Linked DNA regions of Homo sapiens. The protein of the gene in region 7 purifies or fractionates together with the protein of the main gene of each other region. This does not show direct contact. Each region holds a gene or a part of one and is shown on either strand. Other genes may lie near its edges.

Evidence for each region.
Region 1: the proteins of SPAST (region 7) and CUL1 purify together in Homo sapiens (affinity purification with western blotting; one study listed by BioGRID and IntAct). This does not show direct contact.
Region 2: the proteins of SPAST (region 7) and NUP107 purify together in Homo sapiens (affinity purification with mass spectrometry; 4 studies listed by BioGRID and IntAct, with this or other methods). This does not show direct contact.
Region 3: the proteins of SPAST (region 7) and SVIL purify together in Homo sapiens (affinity purification with mass spectrometry; one large-scale study listed by BioGRID and IntAct). This does not show direct contact.
Region 4: the proteins of SPAST (region 7) and NUP43 purify together in Homo sapiens (affinity purification with mass spectrometry; 4 studies listed by BioGRID and IntAct, with this or other methods). This does not show direct contact.
Region 5: the proteins of SPAST (region 7) and NUP160 purify together in Homo sapiens (affinity purification with mass spectrometry; 3 studies listed by BioGRID and IntAct, with this or other methods). This does not show direct contact.
Region 6: the proteins of SPAST (region 7) and NUP98 purify together in Homo sapiens (affinity purification with mass spectrometry; 4 studies listed by BioGRID and IntAct, with this or other methods). This does not show direct contact.

The regions. Positions count from the first base shown.
Region 1 is NC_000007.14:148,705,403-148,708,902, reverse strand, and holds part of CUL1 (cullin-1), read right to left. Parts: intron 1-3,500. UniProt on the Homo sapiens protein: Core component of multiple cullin-RING-based SCF (SKP1-CUL1-F-box protein) E3 ubiquitin-protein ligase complexes, which mediate the ubiquitination of proteins involved in cell cycle progression, signal transduction and transcription.
Region 2 is NC_000012.12:68,728,478-68,731,977, forward strand, and holds part of NUP107 (nuclear pore complex protein Nup107), read left to right. Parts: intron 1-2,632; coding exon 2,633-2,783; intron 2,784-3,129; coding exon 3,130-3,242; intron 3,243-3,500. UniProt on the Homo sapiens protein: Plays a role in the nuclear pore complex (NPC) assembly and/or maintenance. Required for the assembly of peripheral proteins into the NPC. May anchor NUP62 to the NPC. Involved in nephrogenesis.
Region 3 is NC_000010.11:29,523,472-29,526,971, forward strand, and holds part of SVIL (supervillin), read right to left. Parts: coding exon 3,490-3,500; intron 1,245-3,489; coding exon 1,001-1,244; intron 557-1,000; coding exon 1-556.
Region 4 is NC_000006.12:149,729,530-149,733,029, forward strand, and holds part of NUP43 (nucleoporin Nup43), read right to left. Parts: intron 2,207-3,500; coding exon 2,084-2,206; intron 1,235-2,083; coding exon of another isoform or gene 1,104-1,234; exon of another isoform or gene 1-1,103. UniProt on the Homo sapiens protein: Component of the Nup107-160 subcomplex of the nuclear pore complex (NPC). The Nup107-160 subcomplex is required for the assembly of a functional NPC.
Region 5 is NC_000011.10:47,841,851-47,845,350, forward strand, and holds part of NUP160 (nuclear pore complex protein Nup160), read right to left. Parts: intron 1-3,500. UniProt on the Homo sapiens protein: Functions as a component of the nuclear pore complex (NPC). Involved in poly(A)+ RNA transport.
Region 6 is NC_000011.10:3,791,055-3,794,554, forward strand, and holds part of NUP98 (nuclear pore complex protein Nup98-Nup96 isoform 1 precursor), read right to left. Parts: intron 1-3,500. UniProt on the Homo sapiens protein: Plays a role in the nuclear pore complex (NPC) assembly and/or maintenance. NUP98 and NUP96 are involved in the bidirectional transport across the NPC. May anchor NUP153 and TPR to the NPC.
Region 7 is NC_000002.12:32,150,556-32,154,055, forward strand, and holds part of SPAST (spastin), read left to right. Parts: intron 1-3,500. UniProt on the Homo sapiens protein: ATP-dependent microtubule severing protein that specifically recognizes and cuts microtubules that are polyglutamylated.

The DNA.
Region 1 (3,500 bases), on a different chromosome or scaffold from region 7:
ATTCCAACATTTATAATTTATTATGGCAAAACCTCAAAGTTAACACAACTTCCGCAAATTGGTTGCTTTGTTGAAATTTTGCTAAATGTTGTTACTAGAAATCACATTCCCAGTTTGAAGAGCTGAGATAGAGACAAATACCCAGAACCAACATCCAGCTACTTTCAAGTGAAAATTGCAGCAGAGCCAGTTTTTTTAAAAAGCATGTTAGCATGATACACACAGCTAGATTTTCAGGATTTTTTTAAGCTTATGAAGATGAGATAGGATGGTTGTGGCAAAGGGCTGCAAAGACAAAGAGCAGAGCCCACTCTATCAAATGCTAGCAGCCCAATACCTGCCCTGGAGAGCCTCTGTAATCAAGGAAGCCAGGCAAGTCCTGAATGAAGCAGCAATCAGCAGCGCACTGCATCGCCAGGCGTGAGGGCAGAATGAAGCTGGTGACAGCGGGGCCAAAGAGGAAGGTATAAACACATAGTGTTATGGGGGAGGAACTAGTAAGATTTGGTAGATCACTGAATATGGACAAACAAAAGAAGTCAAGTCTGAAATCTGTGTCTCTGACACAACGCTAGAAATAGAGATGTCGGATATGGTCTAGGGAGCAAAAAAGAGATCAGTTTGGGGCAAGCCAAGTTGGAAGAAAGGCCAGGTTAGTCAAATGCAAAAGCCCTGAAGGCTATTAGCAGGACTGCAAGGCTCTCAGCTGAAGTTGCTGAGAATTGCTTAACCTGAAAAAACTGAGAAACCACAAAGCAAAAAAGACTAGAAGAGAGGATCAAGTTAAAGCTATCTCCTGAATGCTCATGAAGAGTTAGAAAAGATAAGATGAACTGGAACAGCAAGTATTCTGCACAGAACCCTAACCTCAGGAGGTCACCCAAGAAAAAAGAAAGGTAACCTGGTCCACAAGTCTGGGAAATGAGCGATGTGGCCCCTACTCAGAAGGGGACACTGGAGAACAGACCTGGTGATGCTTCCTAAACTCCTCTAACGCAAGACATCCTGAGAACAGCGTTCACCCTCTGGAAACCATGAATTGGAAATGCAAGAGAACCAATCTAATGAATCAAGTACAAATCTAAGAGTGCCTTCAAGAGAAGTATTGAGATGCTTTTAAAACCCAGGAAGTTTTAGATTTTTAAAGAAAAAATGTGAAACAACTTTGTAGTTAAACCATTATTTTACAGGTTTAAAAAGTGTTCTCCATGGACACCGGGAAGGGCACAACACTCACTGGGGCCTGTCAGGGAAGGTGTGGGGACCAACACCAGGGAAAACAGCTAATGTATGCAGGGCTTAATACCTAGGTGATGGGTTGATCGGTGCAGCAAACCACCATGGCACACGTTTACCTATGTAACGAACCTGTGGTACCCTGAAACTTAAAAAAAAAATTATTATTTAAAAAAATAAAAAGTGATCTCAACATGACACCACCAATAACATGTAAATGACACAGGCTTTGATTGTGTTGTCTCCCATATGCTTTAAAATTTTTTTAATATAATTCCTCTGATAGTATTTAGGATTTAAACAAGGACTAGGGTGAAGCAAAAATTATTTCTAGACACTAAACTTATAACCATACTCATTAGGATCCTGGCCTCTATGGCACTTCCCACACTGTGCTACAAAGAACCACGAATATTTCCAGGTGCTCGTTCCAAGAGAAAAAAATGAACACATCAATTCACTCCATATCAAATCTCTACTGTAAAGACCTAATTTTCCACATTCGATGATTTTAAAATCAGTATGTGTTCTACAAAACATGTTAATATGGTAGGGGAGTTTTCTTCCTTCAAAGGTAATTTCTTATTAAATTAGGAGTGGACCTTTTAATATATATGAATGTAGGTATGTATACATATATACATACCCTATAAGATATATCTCCCTGTAACAGCAGCAAAACAAATTAAGATTTTAAAGGCCCTTCAATATGCCACCTGGCATTTCCTACGTTTATTCACAGATCTTCCCTCCTATTCCCATACCTTACATATCACAGAACACAGACAGCCAAATATTGGCCTAAATAAAAATCCTGAAAATGCAGTAAAACAAGTAGAGTAGTAAGGCAGAGCTCCATTATAAAAATACCAGTGACCAAAACAAACAAAATCTTCATAATGTCGAGAGAACACATACAGTACGTTTCACCTGTAAAGCCCCAGCTAAACTGCAGACATTAAACACCCACCCCGCCCCCCGCCGCCCCCACCCCCAACACACATACCCTGTATAGGGCAAAGTCCCCTATATATAGAACATGTAACAAAGGCACTACTGAAGAGCCAATTTCAGTATGTGTCTTCAGCATTCCTAACCCTTCTTCCCTTTGTGTGTTTTGAGTCCCTTGTTGGTAGGACCTACTCTACACAGATGCCCAAGTAGCCTTTCATCAACACATCAAATAGGAGACCCTCTCATTTCAGTAGTCTCTACTTTATGATTGATGTAATATATTCCCATGCTGTGTGTCAAAGTCCATCCTCAACCAGGACTGCATTAGACAGCCTTCTGTCCCATTTGAGGTATCTCCAAGCAGCAGAAAGCTGAGGGCAAGCAGCTAGGGAGTCACAAAGCAAGCTCGGCACAGTCTTTGGCTCATACCAAGCACTGAACACAAATTGAGTATCCTTTATCTGAAATGCTTGGGTCCAGAAGTCTTTTGAATTTCAGACTGTTTCATATTTTGGAATATTTGAGGTATCTTGCGGATGGGATCCAAATCTAAACGGGGAATTCACATGTTTCATATAGACCTTATACACACAGCCTGAAGGTAATTTTACTTTCCCCTTGGGGACACTGAATAAACTGTTGTGCACCTGCATGTTGACCGTGGCCCATCACATGAGGTCGGGGTGAAATGATCCACTTGTCACATCGTGTTGGTAACTAAGGAAGTTTTAGATTCTGGAGGATTTAGGATTTTCAAATTAGGGATGCTCAACCTAGACTAAGGGTTATTATTGCATGTAAGATAAAATGGCAAGCAAACGTTTTAAAGATTTTACGTATTTAAAATGAGAGAAGTCAGAAGAATCAGTCTGGAATTTTTCTTCTCCACCATCCCCCACACCAAAGTCTCCAAGTTCCTATAGATAAGCTTGAAGTTTGGGGAGGGGGAAATGGCCTAGTCTTCATGTCTATTCCCTGAATTCCACTTGGGATCAAAGAGTCTGGTTTATTGACATCATCTAGGATTCCAAACCTTTCCTTCCAGTCTCACCAAAGCCTCCTTCCTGCCTTGAGAAAAGGAGGTCTGAGCTGTCAGCCTTTTTCCCCCGTTCTGACTTTCGGATGCCTATTAGGCACACGTAACTATTTTAGTTAGCATTTAATTAATTTCGACATAGCAAAGGTGCCCCCTCCCAGCATTAGGTGACACGTTTCTGTGCAACGGTTTTCTCATAATTACAACAGTATTCCTCATTTGTACTATTTAGCATACACTTCTTAAATAATTGATGGTAGCCTCTGAATTTTCC
Region 2 (3,500 bases), on a different chromosome or scaffold from region 7:
CAGTGGCACCATCTCGGCTTACTGCAGCCTCCGCCTCCCAGGTTCAAGCGGTTCTCCTGCCTCAGCCTCCCGAGTAGCTGGGATTAAAGGTGCTGGCTAATTGTCTGTATTTTTAGTAGAGATGGGGTTTTGCTATGTTGGCCAGGCTGATCTTTAACGCCTGACCTCATGATCCACCCCCCTCAGTCTCCCAAAGAGCTGGGATTACAGGCGTGAACCACGACACCCGGCCTGGACCTGTCTTTTTTTTTTTTTTTAAGTTTAAAAATTAATAAATAACTTTTAAAAGTTAAAAAAAGAATAAATAATAAAAATCATAAGGAAGAGAAACTACGTTTATAGTACTATACTGTACCTGTTAATACTGTAAGTTTATGTTGTCTGTTTACAAGATGAATTGTCTATTTGAAATGGACAACCACAGTTACAGACCTCAATCTACAGTATATCAAGCAATTCACCTTTTTCTTGTAATCTCATGACTTTTCTCTGCTTCTTGGGAGAACTTCCAGTATCACTACTGGCACTTTGTATGGCTCCTGTGGTGTTATTAAGGGTTTATAGTATTGCACTAAAAAAAACAAGACCTGGGAAAGCTTACTTTTTATTGCAGTATGCAACTGAAGAGACCAACAGCTCTTCAGAGATGATTAGCATCACACGGCATTTTAAATGGATACTCACAGCACTTGAGCTCACCCCAGTAGTGGCAGGAAGTGGCTCTAAAGTTATTACAGTAGTATAGTATCTACTACAGTTAGTTGTATGCAGTTATGATTTAATACTGCATCTGTATGCTTGTTTACATTTCTCTAGACCACAATGTATGGTCTGTAAATGTGTGTACGTTTTGATAAATTTTAACTTTTTATAATAGATTCATATATATTTTATAGTAGTAAGTGATAAAATAGACCAGAATCTACATATAATGGATTTATGACATACCTTTTTTTTTATTTTTTATTTTTTTTTTTGAGATGGAGTCTCACTTTGATGCCCGGGCTGGAGTGTAGTGGCATGATCTTGGCTCACTGCCACTGCAGCCTCTGCCTCACCGGGGTCAAGCGATTCTCTGGCCTCAGCCTCCCAAGTAGCTGGTATTACAGGTGTGCACCACCACGCCTGGCTAATTTTGTATTTTTAGTAGAGACGGGGTTTCACCACGTTGGCCAGGCTGGTCTCAAATTCCTGACCTCAGGTGATCCAGCAGCCTCGGCCTTCCAAAGTGCTAGGATTACAGGTGTGAGCCACTGGCCTACCTAGCTTTTTCTTAATTTACTCAGTATTTCTAGGCTATTAATTTGTTTGTGAGTCTTTTTTTTTTTTTTGAGACGGAGTCTCACTCTCTCGCCCAGGCTGGAGTGCAATGGCGCAATCTCAGCTCACTGTACTGTACCCTCTGCCTCTTGGGTTCAAGCATGAATATTTTTCAAATTGTCACAAATCTCCAAAAAATGTTCTAATATATATATATTTAAATTAATGTATTTATTTATTTAGAGATAGGATGTTGTTCTGTCACTCAGGCTAGAGTTCACTGGCTAGATCATAGCCCATTGTAACCTCAGACTCCTGGGCTCAAACAGTCTTCTCCCCTCAACCTCCCAAGTAGCTGGTACTATAGACACGTGCCACCATGGCCAGCAAACTTATTTTTTATTTTTTTGTAGAGACTGGGTCTCACTATGTTGGCCAGGCTAATCTCAAACTCCTGCCCTCAGGGGTGATACTACCTTTTTTTTTTTTTTTTTTTTTGAGAGAGTCTCACTGTCACCCAGGCCGGAATGTGGAGTGTGGTGGAATGATCTCAGCTCACTGCAACCCACCTCCCAAGTTCAAGTGATTCTCCTGCCTCAGCCTCCCAAGTAGCTGAGATTACAGGCATGCGCCACCACGCCTGGCTAATTTTTGTATTTTTAGTAGAGACAGGGTTTTGTCTTGTTGGCCAGGCTGGTCTTGAACTCCTGGCCTTAGGTGATCCGCCTGCCTCAGCCTCCCAGAGTGCTGGGATTATAGGCAAGAGCTACCAGGCCTGGTCTCAAGTGATACTTCTGCCTCAGCCTCCCAAAGTACTGGAATTACAGGCGCAAGCCACCATACCCAGCCAATTTTCCAATATATTTATCGAAAAAAATCCACGGTTCAAACCTGTGCAGTTTAAGAGCCAACTGTACTCACTTTTTGGAATTTAAAATTATTCTGGGCTGGACACAGGGGCCCATGCCTGTAATCCCAGCACTTTAGGAGGCCAAGGTGGGCAGATCACTTGAGCCCAGGAGTTTGAGACCAGCCTGGGCAGCATAGTGAAAAGCCATCTCTACTAAAAAAAAATACAAAAAATTAGCAGGGCATAGTGGCATGTGCCTGTAGTCCCACCTACCCGGGAGGTTGAGGTGGGAGGATCACCTGAGCCCAGGAGACAGGTTGCAGTGAGCCATGATCATGCCACTGTACCCTAACCTGGGTGACAGAGTGAGACCCTGTCTCAAACAAATAAATATAAAATAAAATTATTCTGTTTAGCAACACAAATCCACATCTGTATGAACCTCTCCTGAATACATTTGAAATTTTGAAGTATACTTTTAATTTTATTATTGACATACTTTGATCTTTTTCTATTTTTTAGCTTTTAATAAGAGAGAAACATACAAATCTTATAGCATTTTATACCTGTCATTTGCCTCAAGACCTAGCTGTTGCCCAGTATGCATTATTTTTGGAAAGTGTTACAGAATTTGAACAGCGCCACCATTGCCTGGAGTTGGCTAAAGAAGCAGGTAAAAATGGTTGAAAACTTTGTCTTTTGGCCTTTCTAGGCAAATGTTCATTTTGGCTGTAGTAACATTTGTCCTTATAGTTTTAAATCTTATTTCTGTTGAGGGGAAAAGAGGAATAAAATTTTCAGGGAATTTCTGTTTTAGGACTAAAGTTACTTATGCTGTAACTCATATGTAAAATATCTTTTAATTCTGGCATTTTCTTTTATATAAATATCTTTCATATTTTACATATTTTATTTTTAAGGAATTACTGTTCCAAATTTACTGAATCATTATGACTATTTAGAGAATATTAGTATCAATGATTAATCTTTGTTTTTTGTCGCTTCAAAAAATTATTTAGATTTGGATGTTGCAACAATAACAAAAACTGTAGTTGAGAATATTCGAAAGAAAGATAATGGTGAATTTAGTCATCATGACCTGGCCCCAGCCCTAGATACTGGCACTACTGAGGTAATTTGGGATGGGGGGGCAGAGGTTTCTATAACTTCTAATAATCTTTTATGTTATTCCTTGGTGAACTTCTCCCTTCGTAAAAGAAGTTCTATTAGGTTTTCTTTTTTAAGAATGTGTCTTTGTCAGCCCAGACCTTTTAAATTTAAAGTCTTATGTAAAGGATTACTTATAGTAGTATGTTAAAGGAGCTTCTTTAATAGAAAAAAATCTCAGCTTTGGCTTGTTGCTCATCAGGTTATTTTAAATACTTGATTA
Region 3 (3,500 bases), on a different chromosome or scaffold from region 7:
TCATAACATTCTCCACCTCCACCTTCTCTTCAAAGGGCAGCCTGTCCCTCAAGTCCAAGTTTCCTTGTGCATTCATTTTAGCCATGGAAAATTCCTTCGGTTCATCCCCGAGGTGGGTGATGGGAGGGTTCGCCCGTTCCAGGCTTCCTCTTCTGGGAACAGCATATTTAGATTCCTTATGGCTGTCTCCTTCCCTGGCTCGGTTCAGGATGGGGTAGGATGCTTCTGCTTCCTCAAAGGACCCATACTTCTCCATCCCACTGTCTCGACCTGTCAAAGCTCTCTTGCTTTCTGTCTCTCCATATTCTCTCAACATTCCCTTGTTCTCGCTACCCTCTACCAAAGGCTGCCAAGCTTGCGATTTCAGAATGCTTCTAACTGGAGAGTCCGAATTTTCTATTGAAGAAGAAAACTTATAGTCAGTGGCACTTGCATTGTGGTCAAGAGGTGGCTTTGTGCGAAGATCTCCGGCATACATTGGAGCAACCGTGGATGCTACGGTAGACACTGATGTGTTCACGGCAGGTGAGAAAGGAATGAGCTTTCCACTCTGCACCTGGAAGGACACAGTTAAAAATTAAAAAGCTGCTTGAAAAATATCATCTATATAAATCCTGGTTTATGAATTGACAGAAGCTGAAATACTCGATTTGATGCAGTTTCACTGTTTCTCTTAGTGGAAAACCATTCCTGGACATAGTTATATAATACGTCTCATTAAACAAAATCCTCTGGGTGAAACACAGTTGGGCATACTATTTTTTTCTCTCCAAAATGGACTCATTCTAGATATTTCAGCAAGCAAGGTATGAAAACAAAAAAAGAGCAACATACTTGGTAGAATTCTCATTTTTAGGAAGAAAGCTATTACCAAATCACCTACAGGTAGCAGTTTCCTGGTAGAGCACCTTAATTACATCATTGACCTCAGAGGAATACTGCAGTGCTATAATTTAAGAACACACACACACAAACTGCAATCGGACTATAGCACACCCACCTGCTCCACCTCTCCCAGTGTGACTGGCTGAGTTTGATAGCGAGCGTTCATTCTCCTCTGTCTCGTGTCTATTCTGTTCCGGGTAGAAATCGCTTTTGAGACTGGCTGGGACAATTTGTTAAACAAGGCCAACTTTTCGGCCAAGCTTAGAGTGGAGGAATCAGGTTCTCCTTGCTCAGCAAGCTCTTTGCCCTCATTTGTCTGGTCCTTGGCTAAGGCCTTTTGGTGAGCAGAGGCCTGCAATCTGAAAAAAATAAAATGTCAGCAACACATATACCAACAAACAAAAGCACACCGCTAAGTTTCTACGTTAACTTTCTGCCAAGTGTCACATCATTTTGCAAAGGGCTTCTTTTTCCCTAAGCACGTCTAGGACAGAGGCAGGCAGCTGTTCAGCTACTCAACAAGCAGAGTCGGCACAGGACACTTAGCATCATCACTTCTACAAAGAGCAGACTTTGAGCTCCGAATTATTTCTACAAAACGAATTTCCTGTTTAAGACATTGAAGTCAGCTTGGCTATACCTTATCTTAGACAGAGAGGCGGCATTGTTAGTATCGTAATAAGTAGAATGAAAGGGAGTCACAAAGTATTACCTACGGTGTATTTAGACCTTATCTAAAGATATGGTTCAGAAGGTGGTCTTTCATTTTAAATAATTAGGAAACGATATAGTCCTCTGTCAACAACATAACAGAAGGTCTTGATTTTTACTTGCTAAAGACAAATGGCTTAATTTTTAAAGAGTCACTGCTTCAGCTTAGCATTTACTCTCATAGGTTCCTACCAGTTTTCTAAAAGGTACTTAAATCTGCAATTTCCAGTAACCAGAGGAGTAAAGAAAATTTCAGGTGATTATAAATCCCTCCAACTGGCCAGGTCTGGTGGCTCATATCTATGGAAGGCCAAGGCAAGAGGATCACTTGAATTTAGGAGTTGGAGACTAGCCTGGGCAACATCGTGAAACCCCATCTCTACAAAAAATATAAAAATTAGCCAGGCTTGGTGGTGTGCACCTGTGATCCCAGCTACTCAGGAGGCTGAGGTGGGAGGATCGCTTGAGCCTGTGAGGTAGAGGCTGCAGTGTGCAGTGATGAAGCCTGGGCGACAGAGCAAGACTCTGTCTCAAAAATAAATGAATGAATACATAAATCAGTAAATAAATAAATAGCTCCCTCCAACTTCCAGCTAGAAGAGAAGGAAAGCCTGAAGTCTTCACGGTCAATATGAATCTCTAGGGGTTTGTAATGCACTATATCTTCTGTCCCTGACCGATCCAATTGTCAGATCTAGTAAAGGAGATATTCTGCCTTGATTCTAGTGAATCCCCAATGCACAGGCTATCCCAGGCCAAAGAGTAGCCAGCTTCCATATTCCAGGTGTATAATGAGGCCAGTGACAAAAAAGCCACCTGAGCCTCAGAGTCCTCCGTGGACCTCGTGCAGTAACCAGGAGGGCAGGGAAACCCACTTCTCCGGGAGGGCCCTGCTGTGGGTGTACCAGCTTTATCCCGGCACTGCCATTATTTTTAGCTTTTGCGGTTTGGCTCATATAACAGTAAAATGAAGGGATATGACCTGATGTGAGGACATAATTTTAAAGCACCACAATCTGAAACACGACAGTAAAACATCTACGTTTAGACACTACAAATTGTTATTTTCCCAGTCCCAAAATATAATGGCATTGACTCTATAAATTAGAAAGAGGGAGGATTGTTTTCAGTCTGTATTTGTGTCTACAGGTGTTTGAAAAAGACTGGGTCTTATCAGCATTTCAACATTCAGGTTAATGTCTCATTTTTCTTTTTTTTTCTTTCTTTTTTTCTCTTTCTTTTTTTTTTTTTTTTTTGAGACAGAGTCTTGCTCTGTCACCAGGCGGGAGTGCAGTGGCACGATCTTGACTCACTGCAACCTCTGCCTCCCAGGTTCAAGCGATTCTCCTGCCTCAGTCTCCCAAGTAGCTAGGATTACTGGCACATGCCACCATGCCCAGCTAATTTTTGTATTTTTAGTAGAGACAGGGTTTCACCATGTTGGCCAGGACGGTCTCAATCTCCTGACCTCGTGATCCACCTGCCTTGGCCTCTCAAAGTGCTGGGATTACAGGCATGAGCCACCGCGCCTGGCCAATGTCCCATTTTTCTATTAATCTTTATTAAGTGCTATAACAGTATTTAGATGAAGAACAAAATTTTTGAGGGATGACCATTATTATGAAAAACAAACAAAGCAACTGGATACGTGAGTTAGTGTGATCCTAGTTCTAACACATAACATATGCAGAGAGACAAAATGTTTTCCCACGCACGCCAGCATGTGGTTATCAGCACCTTGTGCTATGACAAAACAAAATGCCACGCATTCTGGAACAACTCACGGCATTGACTTGTTTGTCAAACAAACGACAGACATTCAAGACTTTAGGATGCATCTGCTGTTCGGCACCTTTGCACCGGGTGCCGCATGCATCTGTATCTGTCCAGTACCTGGCAGGCTG
Region 4 (3,500 bases), on a different chromosome or scaffold from region 7:
CAAACTTTTACAGCATTTTCAACAGTCAAGTAGCAGGGGTACTAACAATTACTATTTCTGGGTTTTCCCTTTTCTTCCTATTTGTTCTCCCAGCACCCCTCCTATTACCTTTTGTTTTCCCAGCCCTTCTAACACATGTGAGACCAATTCCTTCTACATCTAAGGTAGTTTCTGACATTCTAATTGGACTCTTACTGATACATTATCTATTTTTTTAACTATTAGAATATTTGCTCTATGCGTTTCGACATTTCGTTCTGCTCACTGTTACACGTCCTAACACCTAGAAGAATGCCTACCACATGGTAGGCATTCAGTAAATATTTCTGAATAAATGAATAAGCAAAAGAACTTTGGAGCCACAGACAAACCCTCAAAAACAGGAAACTTGGAAAATGCAAAAACACATAAACCCCGATTACAAGTGCATGGTCTTTGGCTGACCATAACCTACAACTGACTGTAATGAGGAAAGCACGCCCTTTTTTTTTTTTTTTGAGACGGAGTTTCGCTTTTGCTATCCAGGCTGGAGTGCAATGGTGCAATCTCGGCTCGCTGAAACCTCTGTCTCCTGGGTAAAAGCAATTCTCCTGCCTCAGCCTCCTGAATAGCTAGGATTACAGGCATGAGCCACCACACCCGGCTAATTTTGTATTTTTAGTAGAGACGGGGTTTCTCCATGTTGGTCAGGCTGGTCTCGAACTCCCAAACTCAGGTGATCCACCTGCCTTGGCCTCCCAAAGTGCTGGGATTACAGGCATGAGCCACCACACCCGGCCTGAGATCAGGCCATTTAACCAGTACCCTCAGTTACATCAAATATCAACTTTTTTCTTGCCATTCACACAAACTTGGCAATGCAATATGAAAGATTTGCCACTGTCTATGCTATGGCATGAGGGTCCAGGTTAATGGCACTCACAAAGGAGAACCTTGGCTGTCTCAAGTGAGCCAGCTTACAGCATTTCTAGCCATCAGCCATACAGTAGTAAGTAACTTGACAGTCAGATTTCAAGCCCTGTGATACTCAAATTTACTCTGAGGCAAGAGAATAAAAATGTTTTGCCATTAAGTAAAAAATACGAGGATGTCTAATTTGGTATTTAAAAGTATAAAATGGCTGGGTACAGCCAGCTCATGCTTATAATTGCAATACCTCGGGAGGCCCAGGCAGGAAGATTGCTTGAGCTCAGGAGTTTGAGAGCAGCCTGGGCAGCATAGTGAGAGCTCATCTCTACAAAAAAATTAAAAAAAAAAAATTAGCTGGTTGTGGTTGCAAGCATCTCTGGTCTTAGCTATTTGGGAGGCTGGGGCAGGAGGACCACTTAAGCCCAGGAGGGCGAGGATGTAGCGAGCTGTGATCATGCCACTGCAGTCCAGCCTGCATGTCAGAGTGAGACGCTGTCTCAAACAAAAAAAAAACAAAATAAAAGTATGATAAAATTACACATAACAGGCTGGGCACAGTGGCTCATGCCTGTAATCCCAGCACTTTGGGGAGGCTGAGGTGGTCAGATCACTTGAGGCCAGGAGTTTGAGACCAGCCTGGCCAACATAGCAAAACCCCATCTCTACTAAAAATACAAAAAAATTAGCCAGTTGTGGTGGCACACACCTGTAATCCCAGCTACTAGGGAAGCTAAGGCACAAGAAAAGCTTGAACCTGAGAGGCAGAGGTTGCAGTGAGCTGAGACTGCACCACTACACTCCATTCTGGGTGACTGAGTAAGACTCTGTCTCAAAAAAAAGGCCAGGTGTGGTGGCTCACTCCTGTAATCTCAGCACTTTGGGAGGCTGAGGCAGGCGGATCATTTGAGGTCAGGAGTTCGAGACCAGCCTGGCCAACATGGTGAAACCCCATCTCCACTAAAAATACAAAAAAATTAGCCGGGCACGGTGGTGCATGACTAGTAGTCCTGGCTACTCGGGAGGCTGAGGCACGAGAATCGCTTGAACCCAGGAGGCGGAGGTTGCAGTGAGCTGAGATCGTGCCACTGCATTCCAGCCTGGGTGATAGAGTGAGACTCTGTCTTAAAAAAAAAAAAAAAAAGTACACATAACAGTATTCATTAAAAAGTTTTACCTTGGTGAAAGAGTGACGACTTTTCAGGTACATCTGTGGAAGCATCCCAGTGCCAGAGGGATCCATCTTCAGAGCAGGTAAAAAGATGTTCTGGGTTGGATGGGTGAAAGTGAACTTCCCACACTAAGAGACAAGAATCAATAAGCTCATTCCTGTGCAGATTCGCTGAACAAACAACATTAAACCCCCATCTCTAGGCATCATCTTCCATTATCCTCCATCACATACCTTCGAGCCTCAAGTCTGTCCTAAAAATTAAAGGCTTCAGAATTAAAGAAAAGACATAATGTAACTTTCCAATGGCTATAACACATAGAAAGGAAAAAGAACACTTTAGGAGGCTAAGGCGGGTGGATCACCTGAGGTCAGGACCAGCCTGGGCAACATGGTGAAACACCATCTCTACTAAAAATACAAAAGTTAGCCAGGCGTGGTGGCGCGTGCTTGTAGTCCCAGCTACTTAGGAGGCTGAGACAGGAAAATCACTTGAACCTGGGAGGCGGAGGTTGCAGTGAGCCGAGCTCGCACCACTGCACTCCAGCCTGGGCGACAAAGTGAGACACTGTCTGAGAAAAAAAAAAAAAAAAGAAAAGAAAGGAAAAAGAAGCCAACTAAATTTGCGTACTGGGCAAGGAAATAAATGAAAATAGTAGCCAGGCACAGTGGCTCATGCTTGTAATCCTAACACTTTGGGAGGCCAAGGTGGGTGGATCACTTGAGGTCAGGAGTTCAAGACCAGCCTGGCCAACGTGGTGAAACTCCGTCTCTACTAAAAATACTAAAAATTAGCCAGGCATGGTGGTGGGTGCCTATAATCCCAGCTACTCAGGAGGCTGAGGCAGGAGAATCGCTTGAACCCGGGAGGCAGAGGTTGCAATGAGCCAACATCACACCATTGCACTCCAGTCTGGGCAACAAGAGTGAGACTCTGTCTCAAGGAAAAAAAAAAATGTCCAGGCGCAGTGGCTCATGCCTGTAATCCTACCACTTTGGGAGGCCGAGGTGAGTGGATCACCTGAGATCTGGAGTTCAAGACCAGCTAACCAACATGGTGAAACCCCATCTCTACCAAAAATACAAAAAATTAGCCCGGCGTGGTGGCAGGTGCCTGTAATCCCAGCTACTTGGGAGGGTGAGGTAGGAGAATTGCTTGAACCCGGGAGGCAAGGTTGCAGTGAGCTGAGATTGCATCACTGCACTCCAGCCTGGGCAAAAAGAGCAAAACTACGTCTCAAAAAAAAGAAAAGAAAATCATTGCTAAAACATTTAACCCTATTACTTTATGAAAAAGCTTATTTTATTTTATTTTTATTTTTTTAAATAGAGACAGGGTTTTGCTATGTTGTCTACCTTGGTCTTCTACTCCTGGCGTCAAGCAATCCTCCTGCCTCAGCCTCCCAAAAGTGCTGGAATTATA
Region 5 (3,500 bases), on a different chromosome or scaffold from region 7:
CTAATTTTTGTATTTTTTAGTAGAGACGGGGTTTCACCATGTTGGCCAGGCTGATCTTGAACTCCTGGCCTCAAGCCTCCCAAAGTGCTACCTGCCTCGGCCTCCCAAAGTGCTGGGATTACAGGTGTGAGCCACCACACCTGGCCCTCTTACTTGACTCTTAGCAGCATTCCACATGATTACAGGTGTTAGCCACCATGCCTGGCCCTCTTACTTGATCTCTTAGCAGCATTCCACATATGTGACCTTGCCTTCCTTTTTAAACAGTCTCTTCTCATGAATCCTATGATACTACCCTCTCCCAGTTTTCCTCCCACATTCCTGTCCATTTCTTCCCCTTCTCCTTGACCTGACCCCTATATGCTAGATTTCCTCAAACCTTGATCCTGGACCATCTTCTCTCACTGTACACTTTCTCCCAAGGCACATCTTATCTACTCCCAAGGATGTAAGTACCTTTTCAGCGCTGATGATTTCCCAGAGCTACTTTGCTTCTGGTAACTCACGGCATCAGCACAATTTTCTGGATCCTCAACCTCATCTCTGAATAATTCCTTCGCTTTCCTGCCTTACGGTTAAAGTTGGATCCTGGATCTCCCGTGAGGACAGTGACCCCAGAGTTTTCTCTACCATGCCCTTTGGGGTGGGGCCTCAAGGAAAACATACAGATGTCCTTGTTCCCCACTGGCATTCTAGGCCACTGTTCCTCCTCTGCTACCCGAATCACTCAGCTCTGAAGCTCATGGAATCAGATACCACCTGCTACCCATGCTCACTGCAGTTGATTTTAGCTCCTGGCCCACTGTCACTCTCTCCCACACTACTCTCACCATAATTCTTAATGATTTCAGTATCAGGGCCAGGTACAATAGCTCATGCCTATGATCCCAGCATTTTGGGAGGCCAAGACAGGAGGATTTCTTCAGCCCAGGAGTACGAGATCAGCCTGGGCAACACAGCAAAACCCTATCTCTACAAAATAAAAAAATTAGCCAGGCATGGTGATGCCCGCCTGTAATCTCAGCCACTTGGGAGGCTGAGATGGGAGGATCGATTGAGCCTAGGAGTTCGGGCTGCAGTAGGCCATGACTGTGCTATTTTACTCCAGCCTGGGTGACAGAGTGAAACTCTGACTCTAAAAAAAAACAAACAAACAAATGAATAAACAATATCCAATTATCCTAACACTCTACCTTCTCAGTTCCCCAAATTCCTTTCCTCTAGTGATTGCTCTCAACTGCATCTACTAGGTCATTCCCAACTGCACATAGATATATTATTATATTTTCTCTGTTCCTCCCTTGCTCTCTGGTTACCATGTGATTTCTCTGCTTCCCTTATAGCAATACACCTTGGAAGGGCTATTCTATACTCACAATTCCTCTCCTCCCTTTCCCTCTTGAACCCACTCCACTGAGGCTTTTGTACGACTACTGCAGCAATTCCTGACCAGGTCATCAATGACCTCCATGATCCAAAGGCCAATTTTCGTTTCTCATCTTGCCTGGCTTAAATGCAACACTGACAGGTTTTCACTCTCCTCCTCCTTGAAACATTTCCCTTAGCTTCTGGGATGCCACGTTCTTTGTTCAACTCTCACTTCAGTTACTCCTTCTTGGGCTCCTTTGTTGGTTCGTCATTTTTCTAAATGTTGGTGTGCCCCAGGGTTCAGTCCCAGACTGCTCTACTCAAGTGGCTCTCAACTGGGGGCGATTCTTCCTCATTCACCAGGATATTAAGCAATATCTAGAGATATTGTTGGTTATTGTAACTAGGGTAGAAGTGGCGGTATAGATGTGCTATTGCTATGCAGAGGGTAGAAGCCAGGAATGCTGCTTAACACCCTATAGCATACAGGACAGCCTTCCACAATGAAGACTTAGCTGACAATAATAGTGCAGAAGGTGAAAAATCCTAATTTATTCTCACTTTCTAGGTGATCTCATTCAGTAGAACAGCTTTAAGCACGATCTAATGCCAACAATTTCACAATCTGTATCTTTAGCCCAACTTCTCCACTCAACTCCTGACTACTGTCTCAACACTCACTTGGATATCTATCAGGCATCTCAGATTACACCTGTCCAAAACAGAACTCCTGGACTCACTGAACCTGAAGAAAACAAAAGTACCTGCTTCACCTATACGTTTTTCCATCGCAATTAATGACATCTCCCTAACTTCCAATTGCTCAAGCCAAAAATCTAGGGCTCACCTGTGACTCTTTTCTTTCTGTATACTCCCCATCCAATGCAACAGTAATTCTAACAAATTCACCTTGAAAACATATCCACAATCACAACATTTCTCACTGCCTCTGTCACTACCACCCTGATCTAAGCCACCATCATGTGTGAATTGTGGCACCAGCCTCCTAACTGGTCTCCCTGCACCTACCCTTTCCCCCACCACGCTCTATTCTCAAGACAGCAGTCAAAGCAATCCTTTAGAAGCCCAGATCTTAGATCACGTCATTCCTCCACTTTAACCTTCCACAGCTTCTTCTCATCTTACTCAGAGCAAAAGCCAAAGCTTAAAATAACCAACAAAGCCCTGATCTGGCCCTCAACTATCTCTTTCTTATTATTCTACCCTTTGTTCACTCAGCTGCAGACTCCTGGCTCCTTTCCACTCTTTGAACACAACAGGCTCCTGTTTCAGGGTTCTTTGCACTTTTTATTCCTTTTTCTTGGAAGGCTCCACCTGAAATACTCATTCCCCAGATATCCTTTCTTCTGCTCAAATGTCAGCTTACCCCTGGCTCTTGCCCAACCACCCTACATAAAACATTAACTCCCACAGGTATTCCTCTTCCCTCTTATGCTGTTCCCTTTTTCCTATTCCATTAATCAACTGACAAACTGTCAGAGGCATGTGAACCAGAACAACTCCATCTTGAATAGGAGTTGGGTAAAACAAGACTGAAACCTACTGGGATGCATTCCCAGACAGTTAAGGCATTCTAAGTCACAGGATGAGATAGGAGGTCAGCACAAAATACAGGTCATAAAGACCTTGCTGATAAAACAGGTTGCAATAAAGGAGCAAGCCAAAACCCACCAAAACCAAAATGGCGACAAGGGTGACCTCCAGTTGTCCTCACTGCTACACTCCCATCAACGCCATGACAGTTTACAAATGCCATGGCAACATCAGGAAGTTACATCAGGAGTCTAAAAAGTGGGGGCATGAATAATCCACCCCTGTTTAGCATATCATCAAGAAATAACCATAAAAATGGGCAACCAGCAGCCCTCGGAGCTACTCTGTCTATGGAGTAGCCATTCTTTTATTTACATTTTTTTTTGAGATGCAGTTTTGCTCTTGTTGCCCAGGCTGGAGTGCAATGGTGTGATCTCAGCTCACTGCACCCTCCACCTCCTGGGTTCAAGCTATTCTCCTGCCTCAGCCTCCCAAGTAGCTGGGATTATAGGCATGTGCCATCATGCCCAGCTAATTTTGTATTTTTAGTAGAGACACGGTTTCACCATGTTGGTCAG
Region 6 (3,500 bases), on a different chromosome or scaffold from region 7:
CCAGCTAATTTTTTGTATTTTTAGTAGAGACGGGTTTTCACCGTGTTAGCCAGGATGGTCTCGATCTCCTGACCTTGTGATCCGCCCCCCTCAGCCTCCCAAAGTGCTGGGATTACAGGCGTGAGCCACTGCGCCCCGCCCACCATTTTAATTTCAAAGAATGATTGACAAACTATGGTTATTAAGATTTGGTACTGGCTGGGCATGGTGGCTCACACCTGTAATCCTAGCAGTTTGGGAGGCCGAGGCAGGTGGATCACTTGAAGTCAGCAGTTCAAAACCAGCCTGGCCAACATGGTGAAACCTCATCTCTACTAAAAATACAAAAAATTAGCCAGGCATGGTGGTGGACGCCTGTAATCCCAGCTACTTGGGAGGCGGAGACAGGAGAATCAGTGGAACCCAGAAGGCGGAGGTTGCAGTGAGTTGAGATCCCACCATTGTACTCCAGCCTGGGGGAAAGACCGAGACCTCGTCTCAAAAAAAAAAAAAAAAAAAAAAAAAGAAAGGCTGGGCATGGTGGCTCATGCCTATAATCCCAGCATTTCGGGAGACCGAGGCAGACAGATCACGAGGTCAGGAGTTGAAGACCAGCCTGACCAACATGATGAAACCCTGTCTCTGCTAAAAATACAAAAATTAGCCATGTGTGGTGGCACCTGCCTGTAATCCCAGCTACTCAGGAGGCTGAGGCAGGAGAATTGCTTGAACCCAGGAGGCGAGGTTACAGTGAGCCGAGATCACGACACTGCACTCCAGCCTAGGCGACAGAGTGAGACTACATCTAAAAAAAAAAAAAAAAAAATTTTGATACAAAAATTACAACTACAAAAACATGCATTCGGCTGGGCGCAGCGGCTCATGCCTGTAATCCCAGGACTTTGGGAGGCGGAGGTGAGCGGATCACGAGGTCAGGAGATCGAGACCTTCCTGGCTAACACGGTGAAACCCCATCTCTACTAAAAATACAAAAAATTAGCCGGGCATGGTGGCACGCCCCTGTATTCCCAGCTACTCGGGAGGATGAGGCAGGAGAATGGCGTGAACCCGGGAAGTGGAGCTTGCAATAAGCCGAGATCGTGCCACTGCACTCCAGCCCAGGTGACAGAGTGAAACTCCATCTCAAAAAAAAAAAAAAAAAAAAAAAAAAAAAAACATGTATTCACCACTATCAGGTCATAAGCTTCTCAATTCTTAAAAAGACTTATCTGATGAGATGGGTGGAAACAGAAACAACTGTATAATTAAATTTGTCAACATCTGGAATATCTGGGCCAGGCCTATGGGGCTCATGCCTGTAATGCCAGCTCTTTAGGAGGCCGAGACGGGAAGATCACTTGATGTCAGGAGTTCCAGACCAGCCATGGTCAACATGTTGAAACCCCGTCTCTACAAAAAATACAAAAATTAGCCAGATGTGGTGGTACACACCTGTAGTCCCAGCTACTCAGGAGGCTGAGGCATGAGAATCACCTGAACCCGGAATGCAGAGGTTACAGTGAGCCAAGATTGTGCCACAACACTCCAGCCTGGGTGACAAAGCAAGACTCTGTCTCAAAAACAAAGAAACAAACAAACAAAAAAACAACAAAAAAAGAAGATCTGCATAACTCAGTAAATCAATAATTTCAAAATCAACATGCATCATGTTATAAAATCACAGAAGTGTAAAGGTCTATTCAAAGTACAACACAGACCAATGGTTTTTAATACAACAGAATACAAAAGTTCAATGACACAGTTTCAGATTCCATACTGTAATGAACCTTTAAAAAGGTTTGAGGCCGGGCACGGTGGCTCACGTCTGAAATCCCAGCACTTTGGGAGGCCAAGGCAGGCGGATCACTTGAGGCCAGGAGTTCAAACCCAACATGGCGAAACCCCGTCTCTACTAAAAATACAAAAAATTAGCCCAGCGTGGTGATGTGCACCTGTAGTCCCAGCAACTCAGGAGGCTGAGGCAGGAGAATTGCTTGAACCTGGGAGGCGGAGGTTGGAGTACGCTGAGATAGCGCCACTGCACTCCGACTTGGGCGACAGAGCACGACTCCGTCTCAAAAAAACAAACAAATAAAAAGGTTTGACTGTAGTGTCAAAGAGCAGTTAGAATTATCTGAAAAGGCCATTAAAATACTCCTCTCTTTTCCAACTATGTATCTGTATGAGGCTAGATTTTCTTCACATACTTCAAACAAAACAACATAATATATGTCAGAATGCAAAGACTGGTACATTTAGAGGTCTTCTTTTTATGATATGGAGTCTTGCTCTGTCACCCAGGATGAAGCACAGTGGTGCAATCTGCGCTCACTGCAACCTCTGCCTCCTGGGTTCAAGCGATTCTCTGCCTCAGCCTCCCAGTAGCTGGGACTACAGGTGCGTGTCACTGTGCCCAACTAATTTTTCTATTTTTAGTAGATTCAGGGTTTCACCATATTAGCCAGGATGGTCTCAAACTCCTAACCTTGTGATCCACCCGCTTCAGCCTCCCAAAGTGCTGGATTACAGGTGTGAGCCACCACACCCGGCCAGCTACCACTATATTTTTAAGAATTTTTCTTTCCTTACTAAAAAAAACTGCAAGTATTTCCCATTACACTGAATTAAGTACAAATTCCTCAATGTGGTAATTATGGCTGGGCATGGTGGCTCACGCCTGTAATCCCAGCACTTTGGGAGGCCAAAGCGGGTGGATTGCTTGAGGTCACGAGTTCCAGATCAGCCTGGCCAACATGGTGAAAGCCTGTCTCTACTAAAAATACAAAATTAGCTGGGTGTGGTGGCACGCACCTGTAATCCAGCTACTCGGGAGGCTGAGGCAAGAGAATTGCTTGAACCCACGAGGCGGAGGTTGCGGTGAGCCAAGATCACATCATTGCACTCCAGCCGGGGCAACAAGAGCGAAACTCTGTCTCAAAAAATAAATAAATAAATAAATACATGTGAAATATTTTCACTAAAGTAGTAGTCTCAATCAAGGGCAATTCTGACAATTTCTTCAGACATTCCTGATCGTTACAACCTGCAGAGGATGTGTTATGGGTATCTAATGGGTAGAGGTAGGAATGTTGCTAAATATCCTACAATATACAACAGAGCCCCCACGATAATTATCTGGCCCAAAGTCTCAAAGTTCCAAAGCTGAGAAACCTTTCTCTAGAGCCATACTGTGCCAAATACTTACGGTCAATTTCAAACAAAAAGAATGCACCAAGTTCTCAGGAAATGTTTACCTACCTTGCCTCTAATACATACTGTTTTGTTTTGTTTCTTTTCTTTTTTTCTTGAGTCAGAGTCTCGCTGTCGCCCAGGCTGGAGTGCAGTGGCACAATCTTGGCTCACTGCAACCTCCGCCTCCCGAGTTCAAGCAATTCTCCTCCCTCAGCCTCCCGAGTAGCTGGGGCAATGGGCGCATGCTGCCACGCCCAGCTAATTTTTCATATTTTTTTTTAAGTACAGATGGGGTTTCACCATGTTGCCCAGGCTGGTCTCAAACTCCT
Region 7 (3,500 bases):
GCCTTTTGAGTTGCTGGGACTACGGGCATGTACCACCACACTCAGCTAAATTTTTAATTTTTTGTAGAGATGGGGTCTCACTATGTTGCCTAGGCTGGTCTCAGATTCCTCAAGCATTCCTCCCACTTGCACCTCCCAAAATGCTGGGATTACAGGTGTGACACCGTGCCAGACTTGAAATTTTTAATCCCACACCTAAAAATATAATTTTATCCACCATTTTTTAAAAGTCATAACATTATTTATTAAAAATTTAGATGGTAAAACTAAAAATTAAAGCTTAATAAAACTACTGAGTGATTTACAAGGAAGAATATTACTGGTCCCTTTTGTGAGCATCCCATTAATTATATATATTCAGGTTATATTGTTACAATATTTGGTTCTACTGTATACTTTTTTTTTTGAGACTGAGTTTCGCTGTTGTTGCCCAGGCTGGAGTGCAATGGTGCAATCTCGGCTCACTGCAACCTCCGCCTCCTGGGTTCAAGTGATTCTCCTGCCTCAGCCTCCTGAGTAGCTGGGATTACAGGCATGCGCCACTATGCCTGGCTAATTTTGTGTTTTTGTAGAGACGGGGTTTCACTATGTTGGTCAGGCTGATCTGGAACTCCCAACCTCAGGAGATCCGCCCACCTCGGCCTCCCAAAGTGCTGGGATTGCAGGTGTGAGCCACCATGCCTGGCTCTACTATATACTTTCATTCAGTTGTTTCTTTTTAATCTAGTGGTTTTGGTATTAATAATTTGATAATGACCTTTAGCTGTTATTGCTTACTTATGAGTTAATATTTATAAAGCACTTAAAGTAGCTGGCACGTAGTAAACACTATGTAAAGATCCATTAAATAACTTTAAAAAATATAAAACTGATAGTGGCATTTTATTATAGAGATTAAGGTAATCCATTCTCTCATTTCCATTTATGGGATGAGACGTAAACACAAGTAGTTTGCTCTCTAAAACTGTATACTAGAATTTTATATACCCATTATTTGATGCAACTTTAATACCAAAGTGTATTGTCAGTTACCGGTGAATATATATAAATTTAGGTAAGGAAAACCCAACTTGGTCGCACACAGTGGCTCACGCCTGTAATCCTACCACTTTGGGAGGCCGAGGCAGTTGGATCACCTGAGGTCTTGAGTTCGAGACCAGCCTGGCCAACGTGGCGAAACCCCGTCTCCACTAAAAATACAAAAATTAGCCGGGCGTGGTGGCACATGCCTGTAATCCCAGCTGCTCGGGAGGCTGAGGAAGGAGAATTGCTTGAACCTGGGGAGGTGGAGGTTGCAGTGAGCTGAGATCGTACCACTGCACTCCAGTCTGTGCGACAGGAGCGAGACTCCATCTCCAAAAAAAAAAAAAAGAAAAACCCAACTTATCTTTTACAGTTTATAATAGTAGAAGTTCAAATAATTGGTTTGGAATTTCTGTATTTTTAAGGTTAGTACTAAAATTGTTGGTTATAAATTGGGGTACAATATACTTTGTTTTTTAAGTACCTTGTGTATCTAATTTAACTTTAAGTCCTTTATTATTTTGGTTTGATAAGACAACTTTTCTACTTATTTCCCCCCTTAACTGAACCAGCTACCATCTGCCTTTTTCCTGTTGTATACATTAGTCTCTTACGTTAAAATATCATATAAGTTTCATATATATACACATATCAAACTATAGACTTAAAGTACAATTACATCAACATCTTTTAAAACCTTAATTTCTGGCCAGGCGTGGTTGTTCATGCCTATAATCCCAGCACTTTGGGAGGCTCAGGCCATTGGATCCCTTGAGCTCAGGAATTCGAGACCAGCCTGGATAACATGGTGAAATCCTCATCTCTACAAAAATTACAAAAAGTTAGCTGGGCGTGGTGGCGCACACCTATAGTCCTAGCTACTTGGGAGGATCTCTTAAGCCTGGGAGGCAGAGGTTGCAGTGAGCCGAGATCATGCCACTGCACTCCAGCCTGGGTAACAGTGAGACCCTGTCTCAAAACAAAAATATTAATTTCTATAACAAATAAATTTTATTTAGTAATATCATGTTTAATACCCATGTTACATTCATTATTCTTCTACACTTTGGCCTTTAGGAAGAGGCAGTGTGTGTGTTACAGTTAAATAGGAAACAAGTAGGGTTCATATAGTGCTTATGGGGTTTTCTTTGGTGGGGGGTTGCTGGGTTTTTGGGGTTTTTTTTTTTGAGACAGGGTATCACTCTGTCTCCCAGGCTGAAATACATTGGCATGCTCATGGCTCACTGCAGCCTCAACCTCCCAGACTCAAGTGATCCTCCCACCTCAGCTTCCCTAGTAGCTGAGACTACAGGCGTGCGCCACCATGCCTAGCTAAATTTTGTACATTTTGTAGAGATGAGGCTTTGCCATGTTGCCCAGGCTGGTCTCTAACTCCTGGGCTCAAGTGATCCACTTGCTTCAGCCTCCCAAAGTTCTGGGATTAACAGGTGCGAGCCACTGCAGCCAGCCTATATTTTAACTATATGTTTTTTTCTTTTTGGCTAAAATTTTTCAGATTAGTTTACAAGTTACAAGTGTAGGTGATATCTCATGGAGATATCAAAGATGATATGAAGTTAGATTGGGTTTTTAAGAGTAGTTTTTAAAATACGGATAAATACCAGTTGTTGGAGTTTTGTTTAAAGTTCTTTAACTTCTTATTTTTGGGCCAAAATACAGGTATACGCTAGAAATGATTTTTAACACAGGTCATTTATGCCAAACTGCATTTTGCCTTAATTTTTTTTTTTTTTTTTTTTTTTGAGAGGGAGTCTCACTCATTGCCCAAGCTGGAGTGCAATGGCACGATCTCGGCTCACTTACAACCTCCACCTCCCAGGTTCAAGCGATTCTCCTGCCTCAGCCTCCTGAGTAGCTGGGATTACAGGCACCTGCCTGGCTAATTTTTGTATTTTTAGTGGAGACGGGGTTTCACCATGTTGGCCAGGCTGGTCTCGAACTGCTGACCTCAGGTGATCCACCCGCCTTGGCCTCCCAAAGTGCGGGGATTACAGGTGTGAGCCACCGTGCTTGGCCAAAATTTTTATTAATTTTTCTATTGCCTGGACTCTGTGAACCTATCCATTTTGCCTTTTAAAAATACTTAGGTGTAAATATAGATATTCATTAACTCAGCATTGTTTTAATCTATATTTCCAAAGGCAATTTAAAAGATCAGAAAATAAGACCAAATTAATATAAAAATGCATACTTTAGGCTGGGCAAAGTGGCTCACGTCTGTAATCCCAGCACTTTGGGAGGCCAAGGTGGGCGGATCACCTGAGGTTAGGAGTTCAGGACCAACCTGGCCATCATGGCGAAACCCTGTCTCTACTAAAAATACAAAAATTAGCTGGGCATGGAGGCATGTGCCTGTAATCCCAGCTACTCGGGAGGCTGAGACAGAAGAATTGCTTGAACCTTGGAGGGGGAGGTTGCATATCTGAGTGGTGAAATTGTGATTCTTTTTTTCTCTT